4 linked regions of the Homo sapiens genome follow. The protein of the gene in region 3 interacts with the protein of the main gene of each other region in a biochemical or structural test. Each region holds a gene or a part of one and is shown on either strand. Other genes may lie near its edges.

Region 1 (7,962 bases), on a different chromosome or scaffold from region 3:
AAGTGCTTGGTGCCCCCGGGCTCGATGTCTCCTGCCTGAGTTCCCCCTCCTCAAATTCCCTCTCCAGAAGAGGTACCCCTTCTAGGCTGGAACCTGCACTCACGGGTGGGAGGGCCTCGCTTAGTACATACTTAGTCTAGGCAGCTGTGCCCTCAGAACCAGGCCCTGAGGCTGGGCAAAAAGGACACAGCTGTTGGGCATCTCTGAGGTGGGCCTCAGCTGCCAGGGGTGTGGAGAAAGGCCATTGTGAGCCCTGCAGTGGACCCAACTCAGCAGGGTCCTGCCAGCTCCCGCCACTGCCCATGGGGGCGGTTCTTTTCCAGCTTGGGCCAGTGTGGGGGGAGCCTCTTCATGGCTTGTTTAAGAGCTGCTAGCTGGCTGCAGCCTGCACCCTGAGGGTGCCCACAGAACTGGTGTCTCCAGACATGCAGGCCCGAGGGGTCAGCATGGGCAGTGGCTGACCCCCCCCCCCTTCCCCCATTCCCAGCCCCTAAAACTTGCTGGCCACAGCTGCGGCACTAAGGAAGTGCAGGAAGTCCTGAGCAGCCAGCTGAGCCCCCCGCCCCCCACCCCAACCTCAAGCTGACCCCAGAGGCTGCGCAGGGGGGGCAGAGGGGCGGAGCTTGGGTATTAACAACTGGAAAAGTATGAAGAACATTGCTGCCAGTCCCCAGCTCTGAGACAAGGACAGGGGTAGATCGGGGGTAGCAACAGGGTGAGAGAGAGTTACAGACTGGCAGAGAAACAAGGAGAGAGAGAGGGAGAATCAGACACTGCAAGACAGAGCAACAGAGAGACAGAGTTAGAGAGAAATTCCAAGTCAAAAGTACATATCACTCACACAGACACTCGCCAGCCGATGGCCTCTTAAGGAAAGCTTCCAAGTTTGGACAGGAGGGTACAGGTGGGAAAAAGGGCCAGACTCAAGGTGGGGCGCAGGAACTCAGCTGGAAGTGACTGACTGTTCCCAGGAAAGACCCAGGCAAATGACTCAGAGCAGGGGCAGTTAGACACCCCTGAGCTTTTAGGGTAGGGAGGAGAGCAGCTCTCCCCTTCCCCAACAGTCAAGAGAATCCTAGCTTCTAGAAGTCACTGGACACTGCTTTGAGCCCATGACTCGGCCCTCTGGAACCCCCCTGAACCCACTGTCTTTGCTCTTGTTTCTCTGTCCCTCTAAAAGAAAGAAAGAAAAAAAAAACAGCCCATTCCCGCACAGTGGCTGAGCCTAGAGGAAAAAGGGGAGGAGGAAGCTGAAGGGGAAAAATTTGTGATTGTGTGCATCTAAGTGTGTGCTCGGCTGCACAGGCTGCAGTTGTGTGTATCTGGGGTTGTGTGGACACGACTGTTGGTGTGGACCTGCAACTGTGGGGACCTGGGCCTTGTGAACTCATTCTGCACCTGAGTTCAGGGGACCATGTGCAAATGAGTGCACCTGTGTCTGCAGGTTCCACAGTCAATCAACTAACAAGTATTTACAGAGCAGCCCTTGTGCTAGGCTCTGCGTGGGATCCAGAGCTCTTTAAGTGATTCTCCCAGGTCTCCAAGAGCTCACTGTCTAGTAGGGTGGTATCTCAAGCGATAGAGACCAAGAACATGTCATTGGGAATGCATGCTTTACACCATTACGCAGGAACACTTTTTCATACAGCCAAATTTAATATTCTTGGGAGCAAGGGTTTTGTTGCCTACAGAACCTCAGAGCTCCACAGTAAAGAGTCCAGGAAAATACTTGTTGCTAAGTTGTGTATACATGTGTTGGTGTGTAACTGTGTTTGCATCTGACTGAGTGACAGCGACTGTCACGGCAAGCAATGATGTCTGTGTGACTGGGCTCATGCGAGCACGTGTGTGCCTGTGAGTGACAGGGTCTTTTGTAATTGTGCTGCTGTGTGCAATTGCTCTGTGTGCATGCATGCATGTGACAGTGACTTTTTATGTGTGGGTGACAGCAACTCCTCCTTGCCCCAGTGTGTGACAGCATCTACGTGTGACCCTGTGCGTGGGTATGTGCATGGATCGGTCCCCATGCTCTTGGTCTCCCATGGGTATATCCCACCCCTCAGAGCTCCACGGTGCAGCAGCAGCCTGTCTCTTCCCTTGTCCCCATGTGGGTGTGTCCAGTAGCTCCTGTCCTTGAGTCTGCCTGGGTGTCCCTGGATGTGCATGTGGCTGTCTGTGTGGACATATCTCTGTGTCTGCGTGTCACTTTTGCTTCCCCCCTCATTTTGGACAACAGCCCCCTTCATCCCCTCCCCCTCCTGGAGCCAAAGCCAGCACTGAGGGGCAGGCTCCCACCTCACTGGCTTTCCTTCTGTGTCCCCCACCCCCACCCCTGGAACGGTGGTTCTTTCAATTGCCCCTGTCATCCCCCCAGGCCTTTCTTTCACGCTGGACAAGGGAGGGCCCCAGATGGAGAAGGGGCACCAGAGACACGTTGCAAGGGGAGGGAAACAAGGTGGGGTACACACACACAGGTCCATTTCTCCCTCTCCTCCCCAGCCAGCAACTCTCCTAATCATCTAGGCACCACCAAGTACACCCCTTCCACACACACATTCCCCCCCAACAACCGCGTTTTTGCAATTAGCAGTGTTGCAACCAGACAGCCATGCTCAACCGGGAGGCGGGTGAGGCGGGGGAACTTCCCTCTCCCCGGACCCGTGCAAGCCCACCCGCGCCACCGCACTCATACTGCCCTCCGCAGCTGGAGGCAGCTTTGCAAAGGCCACTCGGGCCTCAGAGGCTAGGGGTGGGGGCTGGGGGGGCAGGCCTCCGGCGCACCGTAAACAAACCGCGGCGCGGCGGGCGGGGGAGCTCCGGCGGCCGGCAACGGGGCCCGGCCCGGGAATGCGCAGCAGACTGGCCGGACAGAGGCCGGGCGGGCCCTCCAGGGGGAGGCTCGGACGCCATCTCCGCCTGCGAACCCCGGGGCCCAGCGACCTCCTAGCAACACCTCCCTTCCCCAGGGCGTCAGTTGCAAGCTCCCGGGCTCGTGACAGGGTCACTGGGGCGCCAGGAAAGGCTGAGGCTGGCAGCAGGCACCCCCTGGGCGCCCCTAGCCCGCCTGGGAGCTGGCCACGGAGCCCCGCGGCTTTGCATAATCAATCGCAAGGCATTTGCATATTAATGCCCCCTCGCTCCCTCCTCCTTACCTCGGCGTGGCGCGCCGGACCGGGCTGGGCAGCGACGCGGGGGTCTCAGCGCCCCGTGCTGGGGGCGTCCATGGGGGGCCGGTGGGGCCCGGGCCGCCCGCCTCCTGCGCCCGGGTGTGAGTGCGAGTGAGCGCGGGGGGGGCGGGGGGCGAGTGTGGCGGCCCCGCGGCTCCTCCGGCAGAGGCGGCGGCCGCTCTGGCTCCTCCCTCCCCCGCCCCGCTCCGGCTGGGGCTCGGGCTCGGCGCGCCCGGCCGGCTCGCGGCTGCTCCCTGCAGGCCGCCTCGCCGCCGCCCGCCCCCGCCCCCCGCCCCCTGCCGCGCCCCGGGACCCCCGCCAGAGGTCCGGCCGCCCCTCGGCCGCCTCTGCCCCGCCCCGCTCGGACTCGCCCTCCCCAGCCCGGGCGGCTCCCGCAGGAGTGGGTACTTGGTGACATATTTTGGAAAAGATGTCATTAAAAAATAGCCTTTGCTTGCCGGGAGAATTGGGGGGTTTTCGGGTGTGCACCGTGAGGGTGGAGGAGGAAGTATCGACGAGCAGCCTGCACCTTATACATCGGGGAGAAAGTCTAAACACCAAACGCTTGCAGGTGTAGTTTGTTTGGGAGTTCGGGTCCCTTCTCCGCCGGTAACTCACTGTGTGACCTTGACAAATCGCCACTGCTGTCGGGGGCAGAGCTTCCTCAAGCTTCAGCTGCGAGGGCTGGGCAGGTGACCCCTGATGTCCTTTTAACTTCAATCATCTTACGTTTTTCATCCTTGTGGGGGTTCATTCCCTGTTACCTCCCTCCCCTCTCATTTCTAACATCAATACCGATCCACTGCCTCCCTTTTCCAACGTCACCCTTCTCCATATAGGCTCTTTCTATTCTCTGTCACCAGCCATTTCCCCCAACAATCTGCTCCCTCTCCTGAGCTCGGGGAGGGGACAAGATCTGCCATACCCCCTCAATTCCTAGCTCCCGGGTGGTGGTATTTCCCCCCATGTTTGCTCCCACAAAAATCCAAATGGTACCAGAGTCAATCTAAGGAAGACGGTGGGCTGCATACAAATGGACCCCCTAACCCAACCCAAAGGAGAGGTCTCCACCATGCCAGCCCCACCCCCAGCACACACATACACACACCACACACCTGCATTCATGGACATAAAACCAACCCAGTGACGCCAGAGCACCTTTCATCTCAGGATCTCCTAGCGCCAGGCCGAGCCCTAATTACCCCAGCACCCCCCTGGCCCCGCCGGTTCCCCTGCTGTCATTAGCCCAGTTTTACCAGCGGGGGCCACAGCCTTCCCACGGCTCTCAGGGTGGGGCCCTGGCTACATAGTCTGCTCTTGGGGAGGGGTGTGTGTGTGAGTGTGTGTGTGTGTAAGTGTGTGTGTGTTAGGGGGAGCTGCTCGGCTAATCGCCCAGTTTATACTGGGCAGAGTCACTTGGCGAGTGTGGGATTCTGAGCCACAGCTTACCCAAGTTGGGCTGCCCTTGCTCATGTCTTAGTCTCAGCCACCTGCATCCTCAGTGCTGTTGGAACCACTTCTTTCACAGGGGGTACTGGAGTTCGTAATGCTTGGCGGAGGGGAGGGTACCTCTCTTGGGGTCCCTGGAACCATGGAGATGAGAAGAGCAGCTGGGATGAAACCTATGGCGTGCAGAGTGCAGTGGTGGTGTTGAGGGCATGCCATGGGTGAAGGGAGCCTGTGGTGTGCAGTGGCAGCTGTAATGGGGAATTGAGGCTGCAGCGTACGGAGCCTCCATGCAGTAAGCGAACCTGTGTTCAGTCTGGGCTCACAGGAGACAAGCAACAGCTGCAGTGTGGGGCAGGAGGCTGCAGTGTGCAGAGTCAGTGCAGTGAGTGGAATGAGGTGCACTGAGGGTGGCTGTCTGCCAGTCGATGCCACCTCCTCGGTGATCAGGTTTGGCCGGAACCCTGGGGAGCAAGGCTGCAGTATGTAGTGCTCAGGGTCTGTACTCTACCCTGTATGGAACTAGTCCCTTGGGATTGGGCTGCTCAAGGAGCTGGGAGGGAATCCCAATGCATGAGATACATTTATACTCTGCATCACAAAGGCAGAACTAGGAGGCAGTGGGGAGGGCCAGCGGTAATCTGGATCAGGGCAGGAGTGATGGTGTCCAGAGGGGGAGGAGGAAGGTGCTACGGTTTTGTCTCTCTTCCATTCTGGCTTTCCCCACCATATCTCTCTTTGATGCAAGGCCCTATAATGTTGGGTGGTGACGACTTTCTGAAATCCTAAACCCAGAGCCATAGAAAATGAAGTGCCTCCTGTTCCACTTTTTTTTTTTCCTGAGGGGCAGAGTGGAGCACTCAAAGACAAGGGTTTACCAGTCCCATCTTCTCCTTCTTAAAATTTATTATTATTATTATTATTTGAGACAGGGTCTTGCTCTTTTGCCCAGGCTGGAGTGCAGTGGCACAATCTTGGCTCACTGCAACCTCCGTCTCCTGGGTTCAAGGGATTTTCATGTCCTAGCCTCCCAAGTAGCGGGGATTGTAGGCATGTGCTAGCATGCCCAGCTAATTTTTGTTTTTTTGCTTTGTTTTGTTTTGTTTTTTTGGTAGAGAAGGGGTTTCACCATGTTGGCCAGGCTAGTCTTGAACTCCTGGCCTCAAGTGCTCCTCCTGCCTTGGCCTCCCAAAGTGCTGGGATTACAGGCATGAACCACCGTCCCCGGCCACCCCCATCTTCTTTTTACCTCTCTCTTTTTCTTGGGCTCCCAGTATGGACTGGTGACAGGTCTGGGCAGGGCAAAGTGAAGGGCACACTGCTTTCAAAGCAGGCCTCTCCCCAGGTGCCAGGATCCAGCCCGTGTCTGGGCGTATAGCCACTGTCCCTGTGTTGCCTCATCTGTCCTCCCACCCCACTCACCCTGCCCACCCATTTCTTGAAGCTGCTAGCTCTTCTCAGATTGAGTTCATCCTCAGCTCCTTTTCCGTCCTTGTCATGAAACCCCCCACCACCACCAGGGCTGTCCCCTCCCATTCCCCACCTCTGCTTCAGAGCATTCCCCGAATCTATGAGGAGGGTAGGGGTGGCATGAATAAGGCTGGATAGACCCTCCAAGAGGATATGTCTGATGGCCCCTCCAGCTGAGATTTCCGTTGCTAAGGAGGTAGCAGGAACAGCCTGTTCTCTGGGCTCCCATCAGAACAGCCATGCCTAGGCCCCTCCCTCTCTCCCTCCATCTCTCCCTCCCTTCCTTCCAGACTGTTGCTAGGAAGCACCCTAAGATTTCTTGAGGATACGACCCCTAGGAACCAAGGTATCCAGATATCTTTCTGAAGAGGTTTTTTTCAAAGTCTGGCAGCTAAAACTCCACACAGCATCCTCTACCCCTGCTCAAAAGCCTTACACATCTCTAGCAGTTTGGGGAAACAGGAGATAGGCCCCTCTACCAGCCACCATGGAACAAGCTCTGTGGCCTGGGCCTCAGTAAATCCCTTCCTCTATCTCATCTTGACCTCTTGGACCCTAGGTCAGCAAGTGATGACATGTCCAGCATATACCTCTAGACTCTGCAGACAGAGCTGAACTTATTGGGGGTGCTCTGGAAAGACAGCAGAGGAAACTGAGGTACTACCAGCCAAGAGAACTCAAAGCTCAGATGTTTCTCCCTCCTAGGGGTTTCCCAATCAGAAAGAGTGGTGCAAATGGAGGAAAGAAAGTTGGAGAGCAGGCTGGGCAAGGTGGCTGACTGACATCACCAGTATTTTGGGAGGCTGAGGTGGGAGGATCTCTTCAGGTCATGAGTTCAAGACCATCCTGGGCAACATAGTGAGACCTCCATCTCAAAAAAAAAAAAAACCAAAAACAAAAACCCACAAATTATCTGGGTGTTGTGGTGCAGACCTTCAGTTCTGGCTACTTGGGAGGCTGATGCAGGAGATGAGAGACTGGCAAATTAGCAATTACCTGGTAAGAGAAAGTGGCCACTTAATTCTCCCCTTTGTCCCATCAGGCGCTATTGCTATGGGTCACAAAAGAGGGAGCCAGGGAAGGGACCAGGCCTGGCTGAGTCTTGCTTTTGGTAGCTGAGGTGAGAAATGGAAAAGGAAGCTGACACCTTTTCCAGGCTGTCTTTCAGGGTTTCTCCTAATTTTATTCATTAATCTGACACTGTTTTTTTTTTTTGTTTGTTTGTTTTTTCCTGATGGAGTCTTGCTCTGTCACCCAGGCTGGAGTGCAGTGGTGTGATCTTGGCTCACTGAAAGCTTGCCTCCCGGGTTAACACCATTCTCCTGCCTAAGCCTCCCGAGTAGCGGGGACTACAGGCACCCACCACAATGCCTGGCTAATTTTTGTATTTTTAGTAGAGACGGGCTTTCACTGTGTTAACCAGGATGGTCTCGATCTCCTGACCTCATGATCCGCCTGCCTCGGCCTCCCAAAGTGCTGGAATTACAGGCGTGAGCCACCGCACCCAGCCTGACACTTTTTTTTTTTAAGCATTTAATATGTGCCAAGTATTAGATTCCCCAAATGCTCCCAGCTTCTGGTTTCACTTTCCCTTAGAGTCTTCTCATCCTATCTTTGCCAGCAGGAGAGAGGAGAGGAGGGGGAGCAGGGAAGTCTCCTTTACCATCAGAGTTTGGGGCTTACCTTTCCGCAGTTCTCCCACTCCAGTTAAAGGAGGGGATAGGGTAGTATGATATGGAAGCCAAAAGTATAAAGCAGAGCAGCTCTCAGGGCCTGGAGGGAGGGGCCATACAAAGGAAATGGCAGGCTGCCCTCCCTTCCCAGCCACTGTCGGCCTCAGGATCACAGCACTTCTCTTTGTGCTGGGAGTATGGAGAGG
Region 2 (7,932 bases), on a different chromosome or scaffold from region 3:
GCAGACCAGACCCTGCCCTCTAGAGATACCTAACAGAGGTGGCCTGAAAGAGCTCCCTGGAAGAGACTCCAGGGCTGCACCCCCGTCCCAGCCCAGCCCCCAGACCCAGGCCCCCTGCCCACCTCCGCAGATGAGGCAGATGGCGCTGAGCAGCCCCGTCTCCGCATCATCCATCTCCAGGGGCAGCAGCTGGTTGGCGAAGGCAAAGACCAGGTCGGTGAGGGGGCCGAAGCCAGCGTTGTGCATCTGGGTCCGGTTCAGGGTCAGCCCGTCCGAGAAGGTCATGGTGTCCTGCTCGGGCGTGTACCGCGTGCAGATCCGCAGGATCTGGGTGCAGAGGATGCTTGGGTTCAGGGACTGAACCCGAACCCACTCTGAGCACTCGGCACCAGCACTCCGCACCAGCACTCCCGGAGGACCACCTGGCAGGTGGCCGGAGCAATGCTGTCTGATAGAATTTTCTACAATGATGGAAAGGTTCTACGTCTGCACCATCCATACCTCAGCCACCAGCCACATGCGTCTACTGAGTACTTGAAATGTGGCTAATGCAACTGAGGAACTGAATTGAGTTTAATTTTAATTAATTTAAATTTAAAGAGTCACATGTGGTGAGCAGCTACTGTACTGGATAGTGCAGGTCCAGGTCATCCTGCCTACATGCAAAGAATGTAGAGGGGACCTAGAATTTCTAGGAGCTAAGGAACACTGGGCTGCTGCCTACAGCTCCCAGGATGAGGTACACAACAAGCGCTCAGTAAATGTGTATTGGCTTGAATGTGGTTGCAGGAACCCAGACGGCACCTCCTGCATCCACGGCATGGGGATGGGAGCCCCTGCAGGCAGCACAATCTAAACCTCCCACCCATCACCCGCCTCAACATTCAGAGGTGCCCATGGAGAAATGACAGTCTGCCGGCTCACGCGGGAGGATCACCTGAGGTCAGGAGTTCGAGACCGGCCTGGCCAACATGGTGAAACCCCGTCTCTACAAAAATACAAAAATTAGCCGGGTGTGGTGGCGGGTGCCTGTAATCCCAGCTACTCAGGAGGCTGAGGCAGGAGAATCGCTTGAACCCGGGAGGCAGCAGTTGCAGGCTGCAGTGAGCCAAGATCATACTACTGCACTCCAGCCTGGGTGACAAGAGTGAAACTCCATCTCAAAAAAGAAAAACATAAAAAGAAATGACAGTCTCGTCAAATCCCAGGTTCCCCACCCTGGAGGTGACCAAGAGGGAACAGGTGGACCGAGCCCTTGTCAGGGACAGCAGGAAGGAGAGTGCTCCCTCCAGCCTAGGCTTTGGCAGTTCCCACCACCTCTTCCTGCCCCCACCCCCTGCATCCAGCCTCCAGCCCAGTCTACCCTCGGGCTCACCTCACCGAGTGCCCGGCAGTCCCCTGAGCTCAGCATGGCCTCACAGCAGCAAGTCTTTCACTTCCTGCTCCTGAGTTAGGGCTACCCTCTCACCTCCCCCTCTACAAACCCCTAGATGTCACCTCCTCTGAGACATCATCCTTCAGGCCCAAGCAGTCACAAGCCCTCCCCCAATCTCCAGGAAGCATTGATCACAGTTTTGCAACCTCTGTTGACTTATCTCTTGCCTCACATGGAAGGTTTTCAAGAGAGGGGATGGTGGTGCATTCACCGCTGGGTTCCTGACACCCAGCTCGAACACTGGCCAGAGGATCCTAGGTGAATCTTTTTAGTTTTTTGCAGAAATAAGGTCTCACTATGTTGCCCAGGGTGGTCTTGAACTTCCAGCCTCAAGTGATCCTCCTGCCTCGCTCGGCCTCCCAAAGTGCTGGGATTACAGGTATGAGCCACTGCACCTGGCTCCTACGTGAATCTTTATTACTGGCTAAATGGATGGATGGCTGGGTGGCTGGATATGTGTATGGGTGAACAGGTGAGCTCCTGCACATCTGGCTGCTAGGTGGCTGAGTGGACAGGGAGACGAGTGGACAGGTGGACATATGGGGAGAGGAAGGGCAGACATTTGGGCGGTGGGCATTTGGACAGGTTGATTGCAGACAGACATTTAGGAGGGTGGCTGTCTGGCTGGAAGGACATCTACCCAGGACACAGGGGCAGTGCCTGGGGGCCAGGGTGCAGACCCTCACCAGGATGTCCAGGCAGGCAGCCTTGAGGAGGGTGATCTGGTCGGCGATGGTGAGGGTGGTGAAGCCGGGCAGCTGCTTGGCGAACTCCACAGTCTTAATGATGCACTTGGTGGAGAGTTCACTGAACTTGTCCCAGAGGTCAATGTCCAGAGAGACACGTTGTTCTGAGCTGTTGTTCTGGGGGAGGAGGGAGAGTGAGGGCCTTCTTCTCCATGGCACCCCTTCTCAGCCTGGCTCCAGCCCCCACAGGCCTGCCCTCTACCCAGCCTTCACTTCCTGGGAGCTCCTTGGGAAGAGGCAGCAGGAGGAGGGAGAAGAGAGGGGAAGGGAAGGACGCAGAGATCTTGCCTGGCACAAGAAGGGGTGCCTGAGAGGGGCCCATCCTGGCCCTGTGGCCCTGGGCAAATCCCACCCTGCAGGCCGGGGGAAAGCCATACCGTAGTGTATTTGCCCAGCTGGCAGAGGGCAGGGAAGGTTTCCTGGTGCGCTTTGCGCACCTTCTCAATGAGCTCCCCCACCTCCGGCGTCAGCGTGTAGCTCTCAGAGCACTCGGGCTTGGGCACCTCCTTCTTCTTCTTGTTTCGGTCGTTTCTCACAGCTGTGGAGGGCAGAGGGGGTTAAGAGGGCAGCTGCAGGCTGCTCAGGGCCTCGTCCACCCCCAGCCTGACAGAGAGCTGCCAGCTGCTGAGGAGGTCACCCAGGCTTGTAAGCACGCGCACACAGCACGCGTTCACGGGCAGGCAAGGCATTGCCACGCACTCCAGCCCTCCATGCCCACCCAACCCACACATCAAGTTCTGCCCCAGAAGCCCCATGAGCACAGCTGTGGCCCTGCACACACCCCCCACCCCACCCCATAGCCAGCCGCATGCTATCCCCCACGCGTCTACTCCAGCTCACACTCCAGGCGACGGTGCCCTCCTAGGTGCTCTGCCTCCTCTTTCCCCAGGAAGGTCCTTCTCCCGCCTCCACTCACCCAGCCCTCCCAGCTGCAGTCTCCCTGGGGGTCCCTTGGGACTGGCTCTGAGCAGCTCCTGGGGCAAGTGGGGAGTAGGGCTCCCCAGCCTGAGAGTGGGGGACCTGGCGGGGAGAATCTCTTGGCCCATTAGCTGGGGAGCTGACAAATCACCAGGGGCGCTGAGCCGCACACACCACTCGGCTTTAAAGAAGCGATGGGGTCGTTACCAGCCGATTATCCAGACACACAATCACTCACAGGGCTGGTGGTGGTGGCTGCTGACGCGGGAGGAAGGGAGGGTGGGGGAGGGGCTCAGGGAGGGGGTAGCGAGGTGGGGGTAGCTGGCATAATTTGGAGATCACTCATGTCGATTCTGCAAATTCAATAAAGTGCAGGGGAGAGAAGGGAGAGGGAGAGGGAGAGTGGGGGGATAATTTGGGAAGAGAAAATTGCAGCTGTGACAAGACGTTTATCATTCGGAAGCTTTAATTCTATTGAAATGGCAGCTGCTCAGCTCCGGGGCACAGAGCAGCCGGGAGAGGGGGAGTTGGCGGTGGGAGGGAGAAGGGGAGTTGGCGGTGGGAGGGAGAAGGGGTCCCCTCCCTGGTCCTTCTGCCATGAAAAGAGCAGAAGGTGGCACAAACAGAGAGGAGGAGGTGACAGCCCTTAAGCGAAGGGTTCCAGGCTTGTGGGTCTTGAGTTGTCACCCACTCTTGCAGCAGGAGCCACTTCCTGGGCTCAGGACAAGGCACCCCCAGCCTCCTGTGGCAGGACACTCCAGTCCCCTCCATTCCTGTCTGGGGCTCTTCGTGCAACAGTCAGAACCATCTCACCCGTGCCCCCTCCCCACTGCCCTCCCCACAAAGGGCTAGGGGGTCCTGCAGCCCCCTCCCCCATCCCATCCCCCAAGGCTCAGGCTCCATGGCAACGGCCACGCAGACAAGGAGGCGTCTGTCAGCGTCATTTATCTCTGACATCATCAATCACCGGTCACCATGGCAACACCCATGATTCAACACAAGAGGGTCTCCCTGTCCAGCCTTTCCCTCCCTCCCTCCATCAGGCCTCAGCTGAGCCCAAAGTGGAAACCCCGTTTCCTCTGGGATCTGAGAAGTCCCAATTCTTTCTTCCAACTCTGAATCCCAGGCTTAACTAGACAATGGCTTTTGGATCCTTGTGCCAGCCCTTCCACCCCCCCATACACACATAAGTCCAGCCAAGCACCCCTCAGAATTCAAGCCCCTCCCCTAAGACTCACAATCAGAAGGGACTGCCTATGCCTCTGAGCCCCACCCCAAAACCAAGCACGGCCTGGAAGAAAGCCATCCTGGAGCATGCACACACACACACATACGCAAGCACACACAGCCAGACGTGCAGAAACAGGAATGGTTACACATACACGGTCCCGGAGCACAGACCTGCCCGTGGACACACAGCCAGCCAGACTCGCAAACAGGTCCTTGCAGCTACACACAAACCATCCTCAACCGTGAGCCCGCACACCACGGCATGCGTGTTCATGCATGTGCACAAACATCCACAGAGCCCTGCTCCCTTGGTCTTTAGGAGCATCTGAGACCCCAACTGAGGCGGGACTCGGCCCCTGCCCTATGGCACTCACACTCCTTGGACATGCCCACTTCAAAGCACTTCTGCAGTCGGCAGTACTGGCAGCGGTTCCGGGTCACCTTGTTGATGATGCAGTTCTTGTCCCGGTGACACGTGTACACCATGTTCTTCTGGATGCTGCGGCGGAAGAAGCCCTGGGTATGGAGGGGAGGGAGTCAGGTTGTCCACACCCACAGTGGGAGCAGTGCCTGGCTACGGTCTCAGTCTAGGGGAGGAGGGCCAGGCCAGCTGCTGCCCCCAAGCGTTTGCCCATCGCCTACCTGAGCAGGCCAGAAAAGCTGGGGAGAATGATTCACCTAAAAGGATCCTCCTCAGGAGAATCCCAGTACCTGCCTCAACACTGCAGGATGGGCAGGAGTCTTCCCCCAACCCACAGCACACACCTGACTCCTCCCTTCCAGGGAAAAGACCTCAGGGCTGCTGGTGAGTCAGAAATAGGAAGACATGGGGCTAACTGGGCAACAGCCAGGGATCTGGAACCCACACCCCTGAACTCAGAACACAGGAAAAGAAGACAAGCCCGAAGAGGCCAGGAGGCAGATACACGGGCTGGCCAGAGAAATGGAGGCGAACACACACATGCACTCAGGAGCAAGGCAGAAAGATGTGAGTTCACCAAGACAGGTGTGCACCGACCCATCACAGACACAGACCCAGGCTGGCCAGGGGCTCCACATACAGGCTGACCAGAGGGACAGGCGGACAGAGGAAGAACAGACCAGGAACAACCAGACAGGACAGGCAGACACACAGCCTGAGTCCTTGTGCTTTGCCCTTGACCTCCGTCCCACATCTGGGGATAGCTACTCCAGGCTGAAGAGCAGCCCAGAGCTGCAAGGCCCAAAGCTGTGAAGATTCTGAGCCCCAATCTCTGGAGGAAGAAACGCACACAGAGGCTCAGGCCCCAGGGAAAGGAGGAGAAGCCGGGCGCAGGGCTGCTAAGGACCAGGTATACCTGCACCCTGGCACCTAACGTGAGGATGGGGAAATCCAGCCAGACACTGGGGAGCCCACAGCCCGGGCACCTGAAGGGGAAGCTAAGGCAGGGTGCCTGCTCCTAACTGCCTCCTGCCAGGCTGCCATGGTGAGGTTCAGGCAGGGCCGCCGGGGGAGGCCTCCTGGGTCCCCAGCCAAGAGCCAGTCGGCAGCCAGCTCACCATGGCAACCTGGGCAGCGGTGGCAGAGCAGGCGTACGCCCTGCCAGCTGGAGGATAGAGACAGGGAAAGGAGCTGAGGCAGGAGGGGACCTCTGGTTTGAGGGAGCCCTGCACATTTATGGGGGAGGACCTGTGGGGAAACTGTGGTAGGTGTCCCTGCTTGCTGCCAACTTCCACAGAGAAAGAAGAGCAGCAACTTCAGGGACACCCCCCAACTGCACACTCCCAGGACACAGAAGTGGGGACATCCCATTGACCTCATCAAGCTGTCCTTCCCAATGACCCCTTCAACTCACCTTGCAGCCCTCACAGGCGCTGACCCCATAGTGGTAGCCTGAGGACTTGTCCTGACAGACAAAGCAAGGCTTGTAGATGCGGGGTAGAGGGGGTGGCGAGGGAGGGCTGGGCACTATCTCTTCAGAACTGCTGCTCTGGGTCTCAATGGCTAGAGAGAGAAGAGGGGAGGGGCAGTTAGAGACCTAGGTCGCCATCCTTAGTACCAAGCTCCACCCTGCCTCACCGTCCCTCCTAAGAGCCTCTCCCAGCCTCACCACTGCTGGCAGGATTCAAGTCTTAAGAAAACTGGGACTCCCCAGCCAGACTCAGGGCAGGAGGCTGCCAATGAAGCCTCCAGCACCCCATCACTCCTCTGGACTCCTAGGACCCCCACCTTCAAAACCACAAAGATACAATGATAAACCATCACATTTGTATGTGTGCCGTGACTGTGCTTGGGGAGTAGGGGTGGGGGTCACCCTGATTCTAAAGCTCTTGCCCCTGGGCGGCCTGGCCCCGTTCTCCCCCCGAGTTAGGAAGGAGTTAACGCTTGAAGAGGAGGGAGGGAAGAGGACATAAGCTGGGGGCAGAGGAAACTGGGGTCAACAGGATATTCAAAGCCGGCCACTCCCCCGCCCCCTCTGCTTCCGCTCCCCCCTCCACCCCATTCTGCCAGCAGCCACTGCCCCTCCTCCACCCAAACAATCCCAGGGCCAGGGACCCAAGGCAGGGGGTGCAAAGAAGAGTCACAAATGCTGGGCACAGTAGGAGGTGTCTCCCTGAGATAGGGGGAGATACCCTGAATACAGGGAGAAGAGTCCCCAGGGCCCCAAAAGCCCATTATTCTGGGTACCCCCCATCTGGGGAGAGATGGCATGACAAAGGGGGTCTGTTCCCATCAATGCTCTGTCTGTCTGGCCTCAATACTATGTCCGGGTTACTAACCCCTCCCCTTCTGTTATTCAGCTCCAAGAGGGCAGCCAGGAGGGGTGACCCAGACAGCAGGGGCAGCCCTCACTGGCCAAATCCTCCCCAGTGTCTGGCTCCATGCCCATCACTGTAGGCAGAACAGGGCTGGGTTGGGTAGGGGCTATCCATGTCCAAAGCCTGGGCAGCTAAGGGTGTTGGGTGCAAGATAAGAACTATGACCAGGACAATCCCAGATTCCCAAGGGGCCACGCAGCATCGTCCTGAGGCCCCTACCAACGTTCAAGTTCTCTTGTCCAGGGCCAAGGATGGATGAGGATGCCTCCCTAGGTAGACAGATCCCTGCCTCCTCCCATATTCCACAATCCTACCTAGCCCTACCCCAAACTCCGGCACATGAGACTGGCTGGCATTTAAAGGTGCCCACAGCTCCTGGCCCAAGCACCTTACAGACATGAGTCACATAGCCCCAAATCACATGGCCCTAAAATTGGGGCACAGAGGAAGGAAGCATGGGAACACCAGGGGCTGACTATGTGCTACCACCCTCCCCCCTTACCTGCAGACACAGTGGGGGCTGCTAGGCGGCTGATGACAGGGAACTAGGCCAACAACCTTGGCAGGGCTTTCCTGGCTCTTAGTAGTGCCTGGGCACCACTTCCCAGGCCAGCCTGGCTGACCAGCACTGCTATGGCCCCCCATCCCCTTCCCTGCCCCAAGACCAGCCTGCAGCAATGGGACAGTTGATGCCCACACCATCCCCAGCCCAGCAGATTCTCTCCTGACCTCCCCACCGCCGTCTGCTCTTCACTCCAACACCAACTGCCCTGGCCTGGTTTTCTCCCACCTCATTCTCCCCAG
Region 3 (7,932 bases):
TTTCAAATTTGTGATTCGAATTATTTTAGTATCTCATCTATATATTTTTTGAGAGTGAGAGAATGTGTGTGTTTGAATGTCAAATTCCCTTCCTTCCTACTGGGAATTTGGTCATTGAATAACTTAATGTATCCCAAGGTTCAGTTATCTGTTGACTGTGTTGCACTGTAGTAATTATAATTAGCACAGTCCTCAGACCCAAGGAGCTTAATAAAATTATTTGTATATGTCATTTTCGTTCTTGAAGTTAAAAATTGTTTTCATATGTAAGAAATGATTTTCAACCTGAGAAAGCTGATTGCCAAAAAATGGATTATTAAGAGATGATTATTCTTAATATCTGTCATCTACTTTCTCTGTGAAGATAGGAAATAAATGGTAGAGAGGTAAATAAATGGTAAAATACAGTGTTAGAGCTCCTTTACAAGGAAACTGTGATAATTCCTTTTTAAATCAACTTCCAAATCTGCTTTGTAAATTCAGAAATGTGTAAATTCAGTCTTTTTAAAGCAATGAATAATACTTTGCAAATTATATCATGCACAGTAAAAAGTAGAAAGCAATAACAGGAGTAATATGAACTCAAAGATGCTCCTTATTTCATTCTTATTCTTAAATAAAGTATGTTTTATGGCTGTTTACAAACCAGTTTTCAAATGACTGGTATGATTTTGACTTTCTTGAGTCTACCCAAGAGCAAAAAGGTTGGCAGTGGTGTGGAGAGAAATACAGTGGACTTGCATATCCCATTAAATGGTTGTTAAATGTCTTAACTAGTTGAGAATTAATTGTATATTAGCAGTTGTTATTTTTGTTTTGTTTGTTTTGAGATAGAGTGTCATTCTGTCACCCAGGCTGGAGTGCAGTGGCACGATCTCGGCTCACTGCAACCTCTGCCTACCAGGTTCAAGCAATTCTTCTGCCTCAGCCTCCTGAGTAGCTGGGACTACAGGCGCATGCCACCATACCCGGCTAATTTTTGTATTTTTACTAGAGATGGGGTTTCACCATTTTGGTCAGGTTGGTCTCAAACTCCTGACCTCAGGCGATCCACCCACCTCGGCCTCCTAAATTGCTGGGATTACAGGTGTGAGCCACCGTACCTGGCCATATTAAGTTTTTTGAGAGAATTAGAAAACTGGGTTTCCTCAACTCCAAGATGTTATCAGTTGTAAAATGTACCCGTATGTTTTATACCACTAAGAAAGAAAAATAAGCCTCCAATTAAGCAACATGCCATCAATTGTAAAATATAACCAGAGGGGGGAGAAAAGTAGTGTTTAGCTGGGATACCTCCCTACTCCCTGAAAAACAAGTCAGGGTTTTATTAGTAAATGAAAATGGGAGAATGGATATTTGGTGGCAGTCATGATAACCATTTCATTTCTATATCATTATTAACCTCTTAAAATATCCATCTTAAGTACATTATGGCAAAGCTTCTTAAAATGGTGGCATTGGAATCTCAAGAAAGTCTCTTCTCATCCTACTCCTTACACAGTTGAAATTAATTGTTGCTGCCTCCTTTCTGTATCTTTTTCTTTGGCTATCATTTCTTATCCTTTTAATCAATAAATTCAACAATTTGATACAATCAGATAATTATTTCCTAAAGTTTGACTTAGAGTTAAGCATTGTACTTAAAAAGCTACAGGGTAGTCTTTCAATTAAAATTTATCTTTTAAATTCCATAGGGACCAAGGTATTTGTTGATAGCTTCAGGTCTGATAACTTAAACAAAATGTTCTGGCATCTTGAAAAACAAACTGCATGGAATTTATTCCAGCTTCTCTTCCAAAGGTGTCATGGCCCCCCTTCCTTAGGTCAATTTTGACACTTACCTATCAAGTTTTCAGAAATGCAATGAGTTCTTGCTTCTTCTGTTGTGTATGTGTTAGTGATAGGAAATTTTTTGGTCTCTTCTTAGATAATAAATATCATTGGAATATTTTTCAAACTGTGACTAAAATGTCTTTGGCATTCTCCATTGTACTTTTTATATATGTTTATGCCCTCCCTGTCTTCTGTATCTGTAAGGAATGGACCTGACATTAAGACTTCTCCATAGAGCACATGAGTAAGGATTTACTAACGAACTACATTAAACCCTTGATAGCCCTGAACAAGCATCTAAAGAATCACTCCTCTCTGTCTTTAATAAGTCATGGTAAAAAGTATGGGTAGGTAAGTTTATGACTGTATTTTAATGTTTATGAATATGATTAAGATGGTCACACTTTGAACAGACTCACAAAATAATCTTCAACTTGTTAGTGGTTTCATTTTTTTGAAAACGGAAATTCTAAAAATTACTTATGGAATGTCTGGTGTTTGGGGGATGATGTCAGAAATGAATCTGTTCTGTTGGCCTCAACCCCACATCAGACTCATCAGAGTCTGCATCTCTTTTCCTTTTTCTGCACATCTACTTTTGTTTCTTCCTAAGTGCCCAGTAATGTAAGGAAGCAAGTTCTAGTTCCCCTGTAGAGCTATAAAGCTATAAAGGAGACTGAACATTCACATTACTTTGCAGAAAGGTGCTTATGAAAATTCAGAGACTTGGCGGCTTTGGAAGATGGCTATGTAACATTAAAGTATGTTCTCTTCTCTAATGATTTGATCATTTTAACAGTATGCATTAACCCACAGGATTTCCAGTAGACATTTTCAATTGAATAGGAACGGCAATAAAACAAATTACTAAAGTGACTATAATCCATTTATATGTCTATTATTTATATGTAATATATATATACATTTACAGATGCTATATTATTTTGCTTGTAGGTATCATAACGTGATTCTAGTTCTGCCTCCTTAACTATTCTTATTTTTATTTTTTTTAGAACACTGATATTTGCATTTAATGGGGAACAAAAGATGAAGAAGGAAAAGGAATATATTCACTAAGGATTCTATCTGCTTACTGCTACAGACCTATGTGTTAAGGAATTCTTCTCCTCCTCCTTGCGTAGAAGTTGATCAGCACTGTGGTCAGACTGCATTTATCTTGTCATTGCCAGAAGAAATCTTGGACAGAATGTAACAGTACGTCTCTCTCTGATTGCGATGGAAGGTGATAAACTGATACTCCTTTATTAAAGTTACATCGCACTCACCACAGAAAACCATTCTTTAAAGTGAATAGAAACCAAGCCCTTGTGAACACTTCTATTGAACATGACTCATGGAGAAGAGCTTGGCTCTGATGTGCACCAGGATTCTATTGTTTTAACTTACCTAGAAGGATTACTAATGCATCAGGCAGCAGGGGGATCAGGTACTGCCGTTGACAAAAAGTCTGCTGGGCATAATGAAGAGGATCAGAACTTTAACATTTCTGGCAGTGCATTTCCCACCTGTCAAAGTAATGGTCCAGTTCTCAATACACATACATATCAGGGGTCTGGCATGCTGCACCTCAAAAAAGCCAGACTGTTGCAGTCTTCTGAGGACTGGAATGCAGCAAAGCGGAAGAGGCTGTCTGATTCTATCATGAATTTAAACGTAAAGAAGGAAGCTTTGCTAGCTGGCATGGTTGACAGTGTGCCTAAAGGCAAACAGGATAGCACATTACTGGCCTCTTTGCTTCAGTCATTCAGCTCTAGGCTGCAGACTGTTGCTCTGTCACAACAAATCAGGCAGAGCCTCAAGGAGCAAGGATATGCCCTCAGTCATGATTCTTTAAAAGTGGAGAAGGATTTAAGGTGCTATGGTGTTGCATCAAGTCACTTAAAAACTTTGTTGAAGAAAAGTAAAGTTAAAGATCAAAAGCCTGATACGAATCTTCCTGATGTGACTAAAAACCTCATCAGAGATAGGTTTGCAGAGTCTCCTCATCATGTTGGACAAAGTGGAACAAAGGTCATGAGTGAACCGTTGTCATGTGCTGCAAGATTACAGGCTGTTGCAAGCATGGTGGAAAAAAGGGCTAGTCCTGCCACCTCACCTAAACCTAGTGTTGCTTGTAGCCAGTTAGCATTACTTCTGTCAAGCGAAGCCCATTTGCAGCAGTATTCTCGAGAACACGCTTTAAAAACGCAAAATGCAAATCAAGCAGCAAGTGAAAGACTTGCTGCTATGGCCAGATTGCAAGAAAATGGCCAGAAGGATGTTGGCAGTTACCAGCTCCCAAAAGGAATGTCAAGCCATCTTAATGGTCAGGCAAGAACATCATCAAGCAAACTGATGGCTAGCAAAAGTAGTGCTACAGTGTTTCAAAATCCAATGGGTATCATTCCTTCTTCCCCTAAAAATGCAGGTTATAAGAACTCACTGGAAAGAAACAATATAAAACAAGCTGCTAACAATAGTTTGCTTTTACATCTTCTTAAAAGCCAGACTATACCTAAGCCAATGAATGGACACAGTCACAGTGAGAGAGGAAGCATTTTTGAGGAAAGTAGTACACCTACAACTATTGATGAATATTCAGATAACAATCCTAGTTTTACAGATGACAGCAGTGGTGATGAAAGTTCTTATTCCAACTGTGTTCCCATAGACTTGTCTTGCAAACACCGAACTGAAAAATCAGAATCTGACCAACCTGTTTCCCTGGATAACTTCACTCAATCCTTGCTAAACACTTGGGATCCAAAAGTCCCAGATGTAGATATCAAAGAAGATCAAGATACCTCAAAGAATTCTAAGCTAAACTCACACCAGAAAGTAACACTTCTTCAATTGCTACTTGGCCATAAGAATGAAGAAAATGTAGAAAAAAACACCAGCCCTCAGGGAGTACACAATGATGTGAGCAAGTTCAATACACAAAATTATGCAAGGACTTCTGTGATAGAAAGCCCCAGTACAAATCGGACTACTCCAGTGAGCACTCCACCTTTACTTACATCAAGCAAAGCAGGGTCTCCCATCAATCTCTCTCAACACTCTCTGGTCATCAAATGGAATTCCCCACCATATGTCTGCAGTACTCAGTCTGAAAAGCTAACAAATACTGCATCTAACCACTCAATGGACCTTACAAAAAGCAAAGACCCACCAGGAGAGAAACCAGCCCAAAATGAAGGTGCACAGAACTCTGCAACGTTTAGTGCCAGTAAGCTGTTACAAAATTTAGCACAATGTGGAATGCAGTCATCCATGTCAGTGGAAGAGCAGAGACCCAGCAAACAGCTGTTAACTGGAAACACAGATAAACCGATAGGTATGATTGATAGATTAAATAGCCCTTTGCTCTCAAATAAAACAAATGCAGTTGAAGAAAATAAAGCATTTAGTAGTCAACCAACAGGTCCTGAACCAGGGCTTTCTGGTTCTGAAATAGAAAATCTGCTTGAAAGACGTACTGTCCTCCAGTTGCTCCTGGGGAACCCCAACAAAGGGAAGAGTGAAAAAAAAGAGAAAACTCCCTTAAGAGATGAAAGTACTCAGGAACACTCAGAGAGAGCTTTAAGTGAACAAATACTGATGGTGAAAATAAAATCTGAGCCTTGTGATGACTTACAAATTCCTAACACAAATGTGCACTTGAGCCATGATGCTAAGAGTGCCCCATTCTTGGGTATGGCTCCTGCTGTGCAGAGAAGCGCACCTGCCTTACCAGTGTCCGAAGACTTTAAATCGGAGCCTGTTTCACCTCAGGATTTTTCTTTCTCCAAGAATGGTCTGCTAAGTCGATTGCTAAGACAAAATCAAGATAGTTACCTGGCAGATGATTCAGACAGGAGTCACAGAAATAATGAAATGGCACTTCTAGAATCAAAGAATCTTTGCATGGTCCCTAAGAAAAGGAAGCTTTATACTGAGCCATTAGAAAATCCATTTAAAAAGATGAAAAACAACATTGTTGATGCTGCAAACAATCACAGTGCCCCAGAAGTACTGTATGGGTCCTTGCTTAACCAGGAAGAGCTGAAATTTAGCAGAAATGATCTTGAATTTAAATATCCTGCTGGTCATGGCTCAGCCAGCGAAAGTGAACACAGGAGTTGGGCCAGAGAGAGCAAAAGCTTTAATGTTCTGAAACAGCTGCTTCTCTCAGAAAACTGTGTGCGAGATTTGTCCCCGCACAGAAGTAACTCTGTGGCTGACAGTAAAAAGAAAGGACACAAAAATAATGTGACCAACAGCAAACCTGAATTTAGCATTTCTTCTTTAAATGGACTGATGTACAGTTCCACTCAGCCCAGCAGTTGCATGGATAACAGGACATTTTCATACCCAGGTGTAGTAAAAACTCCTGTGAGTCCTACTTTCCCTGAGCACTTGGGCTGTGCAGGGTCTAGACCAGAATCTGGGCTTTTGAATGGGTGTTCCATGCCCAGTGAGAAAGGACCCATTAAGTGGGTTATCACTGATGCGGAGAAGAATGAGTATGAAAAAGACTCTCCAAGATTGACCAAAACCAACCCAATACTATATTACATGCTTCAAAAAGGAGGCAATTCTGTTACCAGTCGAGAAACACAAGACAAGGACATTTGGAGGGAGGCTTCATCTGCTGAAAGTGTCTCACAGGTCACAGCCAAAGAAGAGTTACTTCCTACTGCAGAAACGAAAGCTTCTTTCTTTAATTTAAGAAGCCCTTACAATAGCCATATGGGAAATAATGCTTCTCGCCCACACAGCGCAAATGGAGAAGTTTATGGACTTCTGGGAAGCGTGCTAACGATAAAGAAAGAATCAGAATAAAATGTACCTGCCATCCAGTTTTGGATCTTTTTAAAACTAATGAGTATGAACTTGAGATCTGTATAAATAAGAGCATGATTTGAAAAAAAGCATGGTATAATTGAAACTTTTTTCATTTTGAAAAGTATTGGTTACTGGTGATGTTGAAATATGCATACTAATTTTTGCTTAACATTAGATGTCATGAGGAAACTACTGAACTAGCAATTGGTTGTTTAACACTTCTGTATGCATCAGATAACAACTGTGAGTAGCCTATGAATGAAATTCTTTTATAAATATTAGGCATAAATTAAAATGTAAAACTCCATTCATAGTGGATTAATGCATTTTGCTGCCTTTATTAGGGTACTTTATTTTGCTTTTCAGAAGTCAGCCTACATAACACATTTTTAAAGTCTAAACTGTTAAACAACTCTTTAAAGGATAATTATCCAATAAAAAAAAACCTAGTGCTGATTCACAGCTTATTATCCAATTCAAAAATAAATTAGAAAAATATATGCTTACATTTTTCACTTTTGCTAAAAAGAAAAAAAAAAGGTGTTTATTTTTAACTCTTGGAAGAGGTTTTGTGGTTCCCAATGTGTCTGTCCCACCCTGATCCTTTTCAATATATATTTCTTTAAACCTTGTGCTACTTAGTAAAAATTGATTACAATTGAGGGAAGTTTGATAGATCCTTTAAAAAAAAGGCAGATTTCCATTTTTTGTATTTTAACTACTTTACTAAATTAATACTCCTCCTTTTACAGAATTAGAAAAGTTAACATTTATCTTTAGGTGGTTTCCTGAAAAGTTGAATATTTAAGAAATTGTTTTTAACAGAAGCAAAATGGCTTTTCTTTGGACAGTTTTCACCATCTCTTGTAAAAGTTAATTCTCACCATTCCTGTGGTACCTGCGAGTGTTATGACCAGGATTCCTTAAACCTGAACTCAGACCACTTGCATTAGAACCATCTGGAGCACTTGTTTTAAAATGCAGATTCATAGGCAGCATCTCAGATCTACAGAACAAGAATCTCTGCTAAGTGGACCTGGAATCTTCCATCTGCATCTTAACATGCTCTCTAGGTGTTTCTTGTGTTTGAGAACCATGACTTATGACTTTCCTCAGAACATGAGACTGTAAAACAAAAACAAAAAACTATGTGATGCCTCTATTTTCCCCAATACAGTCACACATCAGCTCAAAATTTGCAATATTGTAGTTCATATATTACCGTTATGTCTTTGGAAATCGGGTTCAGAACACTTTTTATGACAAAAATTG
Region 4 (7,932 bases), on a different chromosome or scaffold from region 3:
TGGAGCCCCCTGGGGTCCGATTGGTCTGGCTGTGAAGGCCGGTGGGCTGTGTAATTCTCTGGTGGCTGACACACCACGGGCTGGCCACTGCGCTCTGCCGGCAGAGTGGTCAGTGAGGTGTCATTTGTCAGCCCAGGACTGACAGTTACTGCCGCTTAAATGAAACCGTCTATCTGGGCAGTTAAATCTGCTGTCAGTGGGGGCCTCGGAGCTGGATGTTGAGGGTGAACGGATGTCAAAATGGGTCACTGGGCACTCCTGGCCCCCACCGTCCCCCCGGGTCCTCCCTTGCATCCTCCCAGCCTGTCCTTCGCAGTAAGTGACGAGAGGCTGACTGCCTGGGCCCTGGGCACTGCTGCCCACCAAGCAGCAGGTACAGGTGAGTTTCTTCCACCTCACAGGGAAAAAGTTGCTTTATAAGCGCAGGACAAAGTGACCCTCAGACGGTCCCAGAACAATCGTGTGCTCAGAGGAGCTTGGGTCCAATGTGTCTCTCCCTGCTGCCTCCCCGCCAAGGCCTGCATAAGCCTGCAGGCGTCGATTAAACAGTGTAGCTAAGGGGAAGAGAGGAAGGGTGCTGCGACCCCACTTCCGAAACTGCCCGCGCTCAGTTCTTCCCCTGTCCTTACTCACTAACCCTTTACCACAATCCAATGGGGTGGACATTATTTCAACTCCTCCCATTTTCAAGACGAGGAAACTGAGGCCCGGAGGAGTGAAGTCACTTGCCCAAAATCATACAGCATGTAAGTGACAGAGCTGGAACTTGACAACAGGCCTCTCTGATTCTAGTCTTTGATATTCACTTCTGTGCTACTATCGAATCTACCATGCTGGGATTGGTGTGAGATGGAAACATGGAGACGGAGGGACCCCCATACCAGCTGGGAAAGAAGATGGGGGAGGAAGACCCCAAGAGGGCATTTGGAGCTCAGCATCGGACACAACTGGGCCCCTGGCACCCCTGAGAGCTCAGCTGAGACTCCAGGACTCCTCCCGAGCAGCAAGATGTCATCAGCATCAGAGGGCTGAGTGGGCCTCTGCTCAGAGCCCAAGCTCTGTCAGGGGAGCCCCTCCCTGACCCGGAACCTGGAGCCCCAGCCAGCCCCGCAGCCATCCATCACCCACTGCCCAAGGACCCACTCCTGCTCCAGGCTCTGCTCTGGCCCTGCCAACCTCTCCAGCCCTGCTTCACAGGCCCATTGGAACTCCCGGAACACGATGCCTCTTCACATTTCGGGACCTTCGCCTCTGCTGTGCCCACTGCCTGGAATTCCCTGAACCTTCTCTACTTTCTAGAAAGGCACAGAACTGTTCTCCGACTTCCTTAGTTAGAGCTGTTTGCTCTCCCCCCAGGGTCCCCTCTGCCCCTTCCGTGGCTCTCAGAGCCCTGGGCACCTCGCACTGGCATTATCTAAGTGCATGTCTGACTTCTCCTCCAGGCTGGCAGCTTCCTGGGTCCAGATGATTTTAATGTCCCCAGTGTCCAGCCCAAGGGCTGCTCCACTCTCAGAGCCAGAGAGCCCCCTCTTCTGTCTGCTAAGATGTGTCCTGTCTGGAGGTGGGGAAATGAATGATCAGCTAGAAGAGACGCCGGAGTCACCCACACCCCTCCCACTTTTCTGTCTCCTCACCTCTGGACTTTGCAAAGAGACACCAGCCCAGGGTCCACTGGACCAGTGGAAAAGAACTTCCACATGGCTTACGAGAGGCGCTCTAAGGGCTGGGCTGGTACTTATCTGCAAGGCCCCTTTAGAGAAGCTGGTGACCACTGCTCATAATCCCGGGCTCAATTCAAAGACTTTGAGAAGGGGAAGCAGGAAGGTTTGGACCACGGAGAAGCCAGAAGCAGGAAAAAACACTCAGCAAAGCTGGGACAAAAGCCCTTCCCATCCTGCGTGAAAATCCCCGGGAGACTAGGAAGGCAGCCAGAGGAAGTGCCCTGCCCCTCAATCCAGGGTTCTGGAAGGCCGGGAATGCCCTGCTCCTCCTCCCCTCTGCACGGGGGGTGCATGGGAAGTCTGGAGGGAAGCTAGCAACCAACCCAAGATGCTTGGGGTCCTCATCCCCACCAGGGCCTCCAGCCATGAGCAGAAGGCAGGTGGGAGTATTCAAGACCCTGCCTTTTGCCTCATCCATTAGGTCGGACCAGAGAGGCGGGCAGTGTTGAGAAGGGGCTGGGGTGAGAAACCCACCCCATGACAGACACATGGTACATCCCCAGGCCTCAGCCATGACAGGCGCTCCACGGTGGAAGCCGTAGCCACCACCATCAATCCTCGACTCCCAGATGGCCCAGGCCCCAGTCCCGCGATGCCCCTAGGGCTCGGAGCACCCACCCCCACCTACCAGCCAGGGCAGGCAGTGCCCCCAGCCCATCCGGCCTCATGCCCCTGGAGGAAGCCCAGGCCCGAGTGGCGTCAGCATTGACAATGCTGCTCAAGGCTGCAGTGGCCCCAGCAGTGGGGGCAACGGGCCCTGCTGTTTACACCCAGCCCCAGAACAGCCAGGGGGTCAGCCTGGGAAAGCTAAACACCAATAGCCCTGGGTGAAAGAGTGCCTGAACCCAGGCCAGGGAGGGGCAGGCCTTGGTCAGCTGGAGGGGCCTCTAGGGAGGTCTCAGAGAGCCAGGGCACTGGAGGGGCAGTTCTGGGGCCTCAGGCTCTTCAAGCCACTAGGTGGGAAGACTGGGAAGTTCTTTCCTATGTCTAGCCTCAGTTTCTCCTGCTGCTTTCCTGATTACTGTAGCATCAGGTACCTCGACCCAGGGGGAAAGAAGGCCATGCCATAGAGGAAGGCTGCCTCGCCAGGGAAGATCAGTGGCAGACCCTGGAATCCCCCACCCACCTACCTATCTAGCTTCCTGAACACCCACACACATGCACATGACCATCCAGCATACGCAAGATTTGCAGAGGCAGGAGGATCTTTCACCTTAGCTGGGAAGGAGAATGGCCCACAAATGCCCCAAACTCTAAAACACTAAGAGCCCCCATCTGTGTGTGACACTGCCAATCCTTGCCAGCCTCCCTGAATGGGAGGACAGGATGGGCCGGACCCCCTTCCCAACACTAGGCTGAAGCCTGGGGAGGCAAGACAGTCTCCCAAGGACTCAGCTAGTCCTTTGAGGGAGCCCAGGGTCTCAGAGAATGAGGGAAATGAGTACTGAGAGAGCCCCAGAATAGGGAACCCCAGAGGCTGAAGGGGTTGCAGAGACACCAAGAAGCAGAGAGACAACATGCAAGGGAGAGACACAGTAGGAAGAGACAGAGGCAGAGATCAAAGCAGCAGTGGCTCCTTGAGCAGAGGCTCAAGGAGGAGAGAAGGAGAGGGAGGGAGCGGGGACCCAGGAGGCTGTGATAAGTGGAAATGCTCCTTAATGTCCCCAGGGTGGCCTCCGGGTCCCCAGGTACTGCCTGAAGCCAGTGGGAAGGATGGCCCTATCCAAAGGACAGTCGGGCTAAGGCTTGGGCAGCCGGGAGGACCATGATGCAGGGCCAGCCGGGCGGGAGGAGAGACTCACCTCCAGCTCCTTGAAGACCATGCACCTGCGTGCCCAGTCCACGATGGAGATGAAGGTCTGGTCGGCCATTCTGCACAGGAGGCCGAAGGCCGCCGGCTGGTCGGGGCGGCTTTTGGTGGGCTCCTGCAGGCAGCCCAAGATGCGGGCCCGCACCTGGTCCTCATCCGGCTCCAGCTGCAGCAGCTGCAGGATGAGCTCAGGCACGTTGGGCCCTCCAGAGAAGGGCTCTGGGTAGCCGTACGGCAGCCCAGGCTGTGGGGGGCTGGCATAAGGCTCCGGGTACTCAGACTTGATGGCACGGCCAGGAAAGGCAGGGTAGAGGTAGCCAGCCAGTGGCCCGTGGGCACCGGGCACGGCCATGGGCAGTGCTGGGGCCCCAAAGTCGCCCAGTGGCCCAGCAGGTGGACCGGCGGCCAGGCCCTTGGGCTCAGGCCCATGCAGGCTGGGAGGCAGCACGTAGTCCGGTGCGGGAGGGGGCGGCGGGGGCACCCCCATCGGGGGCCCTGTCTCCAGCTTGAAGCCATTGGCCCGAATCTGTGCCTTCTTCTGCTGTTTCAGGGCCCGGTCCCGCTTGTACATCGGCCCAAACTTGTTCCGGCCACCCCTCATACGGTCAGCGCGCACGGCTGTGGGCAGGGGCAGAGGGTCAGACTCACCCTCTCTAAGCCCCCTTCCATGCTGCCCCACCACAGATCCTTTCCAAACAAATCTGACCGCTCTCTCCCCTGCTCAACACCCTTTCATGGCTCCCACTGACCACAGGGGAAGTCAGTCTCCTTTGCCTGGCATTCAAGGCCCTGCTCAGCTTTTCAGGCAATCCCTGCTAAGACCCCTCTCCTTCCACTCCACCGAACTCACCTCCACTCCTCTGTTTGACACATCTCCTTCCTCCTCCACCCTGCCTTTCATTTTCCTTCTGACTCAAACTTTTTTTTTTCTCTTGTGCTTGCTGAACACCCAGCCTCAATGTCACTACTTCCAGGAAGCACTCCTGGATTCATGCAAACGGGCTCTACTGTCCTTGCCCCAGGTGCCCTGTCCTTGCCCACTCTTATCATGCTGAGTGGATCATGCCATGTGCTCCTGCGGGCTAAGTTCTGGGCTCAGGTGTCTAGCATAAGGCCTGGCAGGGAGATGGTGACCGGAAGGGGACCCTGGTCAGCCTTGTTCACCGCTGGCCCCAGGGTCCAGCTGTTTGTTGACTGACTGCCTGACTGTTGAGCTCCTGCTTCAAAATGACTCAAGTATCCTTCACTGGCTGCGAATGTGAAGCCAAGTTTAGAGCTGGCCAAGGCTCTATGCTGGGGGAGGGGACCTCTCTTGCCGACTAGAAGCTCCTCCGCCTGGCGAGGAATGTGTCATCAGCCAGACCCAACAGGTACATCTCTGCAGCTGGAGTGTGCCCCCCGCCCCTGCTCAGACAGGGCCCCACCCTGGGATCTGGGCGAGGGGAAAGAGCAGGAGAGAGGGGGTGGTGGTGCTCAGCAGGGATGATGGCTGGGGGGCTGCCTGGCCAATCTTCCTGCCCCCTGGGGTGGGCAGCGCTGTGCTGCTCGCAGGCTGCACGGGAGTTTCTACTGCCCACAACAGCCAGCTATCTGGCCCCTTGGGACCTGGCACTAGGGGCATGGGCTCTGGGGACAGGACAGGATGTCCCCTCTCCCATCCAGGAGTCCTTTCTCCAGGTGGCAGGGCATGTGGTCCACCACTCTCAGAGCCACCTGGGGCTTTCTACACTGTTCCAAGACCTTAATCAACCACTGCCTGTTCAGCACACAGTCCAGTGACCGGCCACCTCCAGAAGCTCAAATCTTTCCTGCCAAAACTTACCTCCTCCTCTCTGGGCTGAGAGCTGGGGTTGAGGGTAGGGAGGCAAAGAGGGGCCTGGGTTTCTTGGGGGCAATTCAATTGTCCCCCACTGCCCGGCCCCCTCAGGGCCTGGCTAAGAACATGACGGGAAGGAATCTCACTGGCTGAGCCAATAAACCAGAGAGCCCTTTGGATGGACGGACAGACAAGCAGATGGGCAGCTGAATGTGTGGGGGCTGGGCGGTGGTGGTGGGCAGATCCTAATGGAAAGCGTGATGGGCTTGACAGCTAACCTGCGGCAATGAACGCCTAGGCACCTTCAGCTTGCCTGCACCGATCCCCACACTCACTCACTGGAGGAAGGCGCTGCCGTTAAGCCCATTTTTCTTTTCTTTCTTTCTCTTTCTGCCTTTTCTTTTCTTTCTTTTTTATTTTTATGTACTTATTTTTTGAGACAGGGTTTCCCTCTCGCCCAGGCTGGAGTGGAGTGGTGTGATCATAGCTCACTGCAGCCTCGACTTTCCAGGCTCAAGTGATCCCCCCACCTCAGCCTCCTGAGTAGCTAGGACTACAGGCACATGTCACCACGCCCAGCTACTTTTTTATATTTTATAGATACAAGGTTTCTCCATGTTGCCCAGGCTGGTCTTAAACTTCTGGGCTCAAGTGATCCTCTTGCCTCAGCCTCCCAAATGCTGGAATTACAGGCATGAGCCGCTCCATCCGGCCAAGCCCATGTTTCACATGGGAAATCTGCGGTTTAGAGAGGTTAAGGATTTTGCCCAATGTCACCCAGCCTGACTGACAGTGCGGGCACTGGGACTTGGCCTCTGCTGGCTGGGGTTGGGTATTTTGGGGGCATGGGGACCTCCTCACAGAGGGAGGAGCTCTGCCGACCCTGTGCTGGGGCCCTGGCAGGGGCTGGGGAAAGAGTCATCTCCATAGGGTTCACTTTTGGATACTTCTCAGCCCAACCCAGGCTGGCCTTGCCAGCGTCCCTTCCCCGCCCGAGGCCCACCCAGCGCCAGCGCCCGGTTCTCTTGCAGCGACTGGGCCCTAATGTCGCACGAGGGGCCTTCGCGAAGGCCAATGGTACTATCCCCTCAGCCCCTCTCCCACCCCCACCCCCTACCCCCTCAGGCTGTGGGGGGTCAGGGGTCGAGGCCCGCGCGGCGCGCACCTTCCAGGCGCATCCCCACCGTCAGGCATTTCTGGAAGCGGCAGAAGGGACAGCGCTTGCGCTGCGTCTTGTCGATCTTGCAGCTCTGGCTCTCGGTGCACGTGTAGTGCTTGTTGTTCTGCACCGTGCGCTTGAAGAAGCCCTGCGGGAGCTGAGAGTCAGCGAGGCCCCGCAGCGCCCGTCTGCCGCACCCCTGCCGCGCGCTCGCCGCTCACCTTGCAGCTCTCACACGTGAGCAGTCCGTAGTGGTAGCCGGACACCTTGTCCCCGCACACGGGGCACAGCTCGTCCAGGTCCTCGTCGTACGAATAGTCCATGCCCGCGGCGTCCGCCTGCGGAGGGACAGCGGGTCAGGGAGGGCCGGCGGAGACCGGCAGCCTGGGGTCCCCGCGGCCGCCGCCCCAGCCGCTGTCGCCGGCCCGTCGCGTAATCCCCTCTCTGTGCCCAGGCGCTGCCGCCGGCACCCACCGAGCGCCCCGCGCAGCGTCCCGGGGTGGGTCCGGTGCAGTCCCCGCGCCCGGCCTTCCCCTGCCAGGCCCCACGCTCCCGCCCCGTCCGGGGGGCTCCTCCCGCGCGGACCCCGTCGCGCCCGATCTGGGGCCCTCGGGTTCGATGCGCTTCGATTGGGATTCGTTTGTCTGAGAACAAAACCCCGATTCTGAGAAAAAGAGATGGGCTCAGCCGCGGGGAAGACGCCAGGGGACCCAGGAGCGCTGGGGCGCCCGGCCCGGGTGTTCTGGGAACCCGACAGAGACGAAGGAGGCAGAGACAGAGTCCGGGGGAGCCAGAGATGGGAAGAAACTCTGGCGAGAGACAACGACCGACGCCACCGGGCGCAGACACGAGGCCAGTCCGAGAGTGCCAGAGACACAGACACTGAGACGCCCAGCTAGAGAGAACCCGGCGGGGACGAGACACAGGGAGGGATGGAGAGAGACAGGGAGACAGAGAGAGAGAGAGAGAGAGAGAGAGACGAGAGAGAGAGAGAGAGAGAGAAACGAGGGGTGGGGGATTGGATCAGAGACTCGGAGAGACAGCGGAGGCCCGAAGAGAAAACCCAAGAGAGACTGACGCAGAGCCAGAGACACAACGATAGACGACAGACAGAGACGCCGAGACGAGAGGAGCCCCGGAGAGACGAGGCCGGGGAGCTACAGAAACACGGAGAGAAAACCTGGAGGCGGAAGCGCCCAGCCCGAGGGTCGGGGACAGGGGACGCGCGGAAACCTGCCGGGCAGGAGCCCAAGCGCCAAGGCGAGGCCCCGCAGGGTCGGACCCAGACGGGGGCCCGGGCCGCAGGAGGCGGAAAACGACGGCGCCGGGACCGAGAGCCCGAAAACGCAGAGCCGCCGGGACCCCCTCCCCGGGGGAGACAAAGCCGCAGCAGCGACGGCAACGGGAGGCGCAGCCCGAGCCGCCG

What was found.
Region 1: the proteins of NRIP1 (region 3) and THRA form a complex in vitro, tested with the Homo sapiens proteins (4 studies listed by BioGRID).
Region 2: the proteins of NRIP1 (region 3) and RARA form a complex in vitro, tested with the Homo sapiens proteins (4 studies listed by BioGRID).
Region 4: the proteins of NRIP1 (region 3) and NR5A1 form a complex in vitro, tested with the Homo sapiens proteins (2 studies listed by BioGRID).

What each region holds. Positions count from the first base shown.
Region 1 is NC_000017.11:40,058,283-40,066,244, reverse strand, and holds the start of THRA (thyroid hormone receptor alpha), read right to left. Parts: upstream 3,281-7,962; 5' UTR 3,153-3,280; intron 1-3,152.
Region 2 is NC_000017.11:40,346,697-40,354,628, reverse strand, and holds part of RARA (retinoic acid receptor alpha), read right to left. Parts: intron 6,314-7,932; coding exon 6,165-6,313; intron 4,846-6,164; coding exon 4,704-4,845; intron 2,720-4,703; coding exon 2,559-2,719; intron 2,299-2,558; coding exon 2,122-2,298; intron 328-2,121; coding exon 123-327; intron 1-122. UniProt on the Homo sapiens protein: Receptor for retinoic acid. Retinoic acid receptors bind as heterodimers to their target response elements in response to their ligands, all-trans or 9-cis retinoic acid, and regulate gene expression in various biological processes.
Region 3 is NC_000021.9:14,963,441-14,971,372, reverse strand, and holds part of NRIP1 (nuclear receptor-interacting protein 1), read left to right. Parts: intron 1-2,846; 5' UTR 2,847-3,180; coding exon 3,181-6,657; 3' UTR 6,658-7,932. UniProt on the Homo sapiens protein: Modulates transcriptional activation by steroid receptors such as NR3C1, NR3C2 and ESR1. Also modulates transcriptional repression by nuclear hormone receptors.
Region 4 is NC_000009.12:124,496,567-124,504,498, forward strand, and holds part of NR5A1 (steroidogenic factor 1), read right to left. Parts: intron 6,845-7,932; 5' UTR 6,830-6,844; coding exon 6,728-6,829; intron 6,655-6,727; coding exon 6,513-6,654; intron 4,150-6,512; coding exon 3,524-4,149; intron 1-3,523. UniProt on the Homo sapiens protein: Transcriptional activator. Essential for sexual differentiation and formation of the primary steroidogenic tissues. Binds to the Ad4 site found in the promoter region of steroidogenic P450 genes such as CYP11A, CYP11B and CYP21B.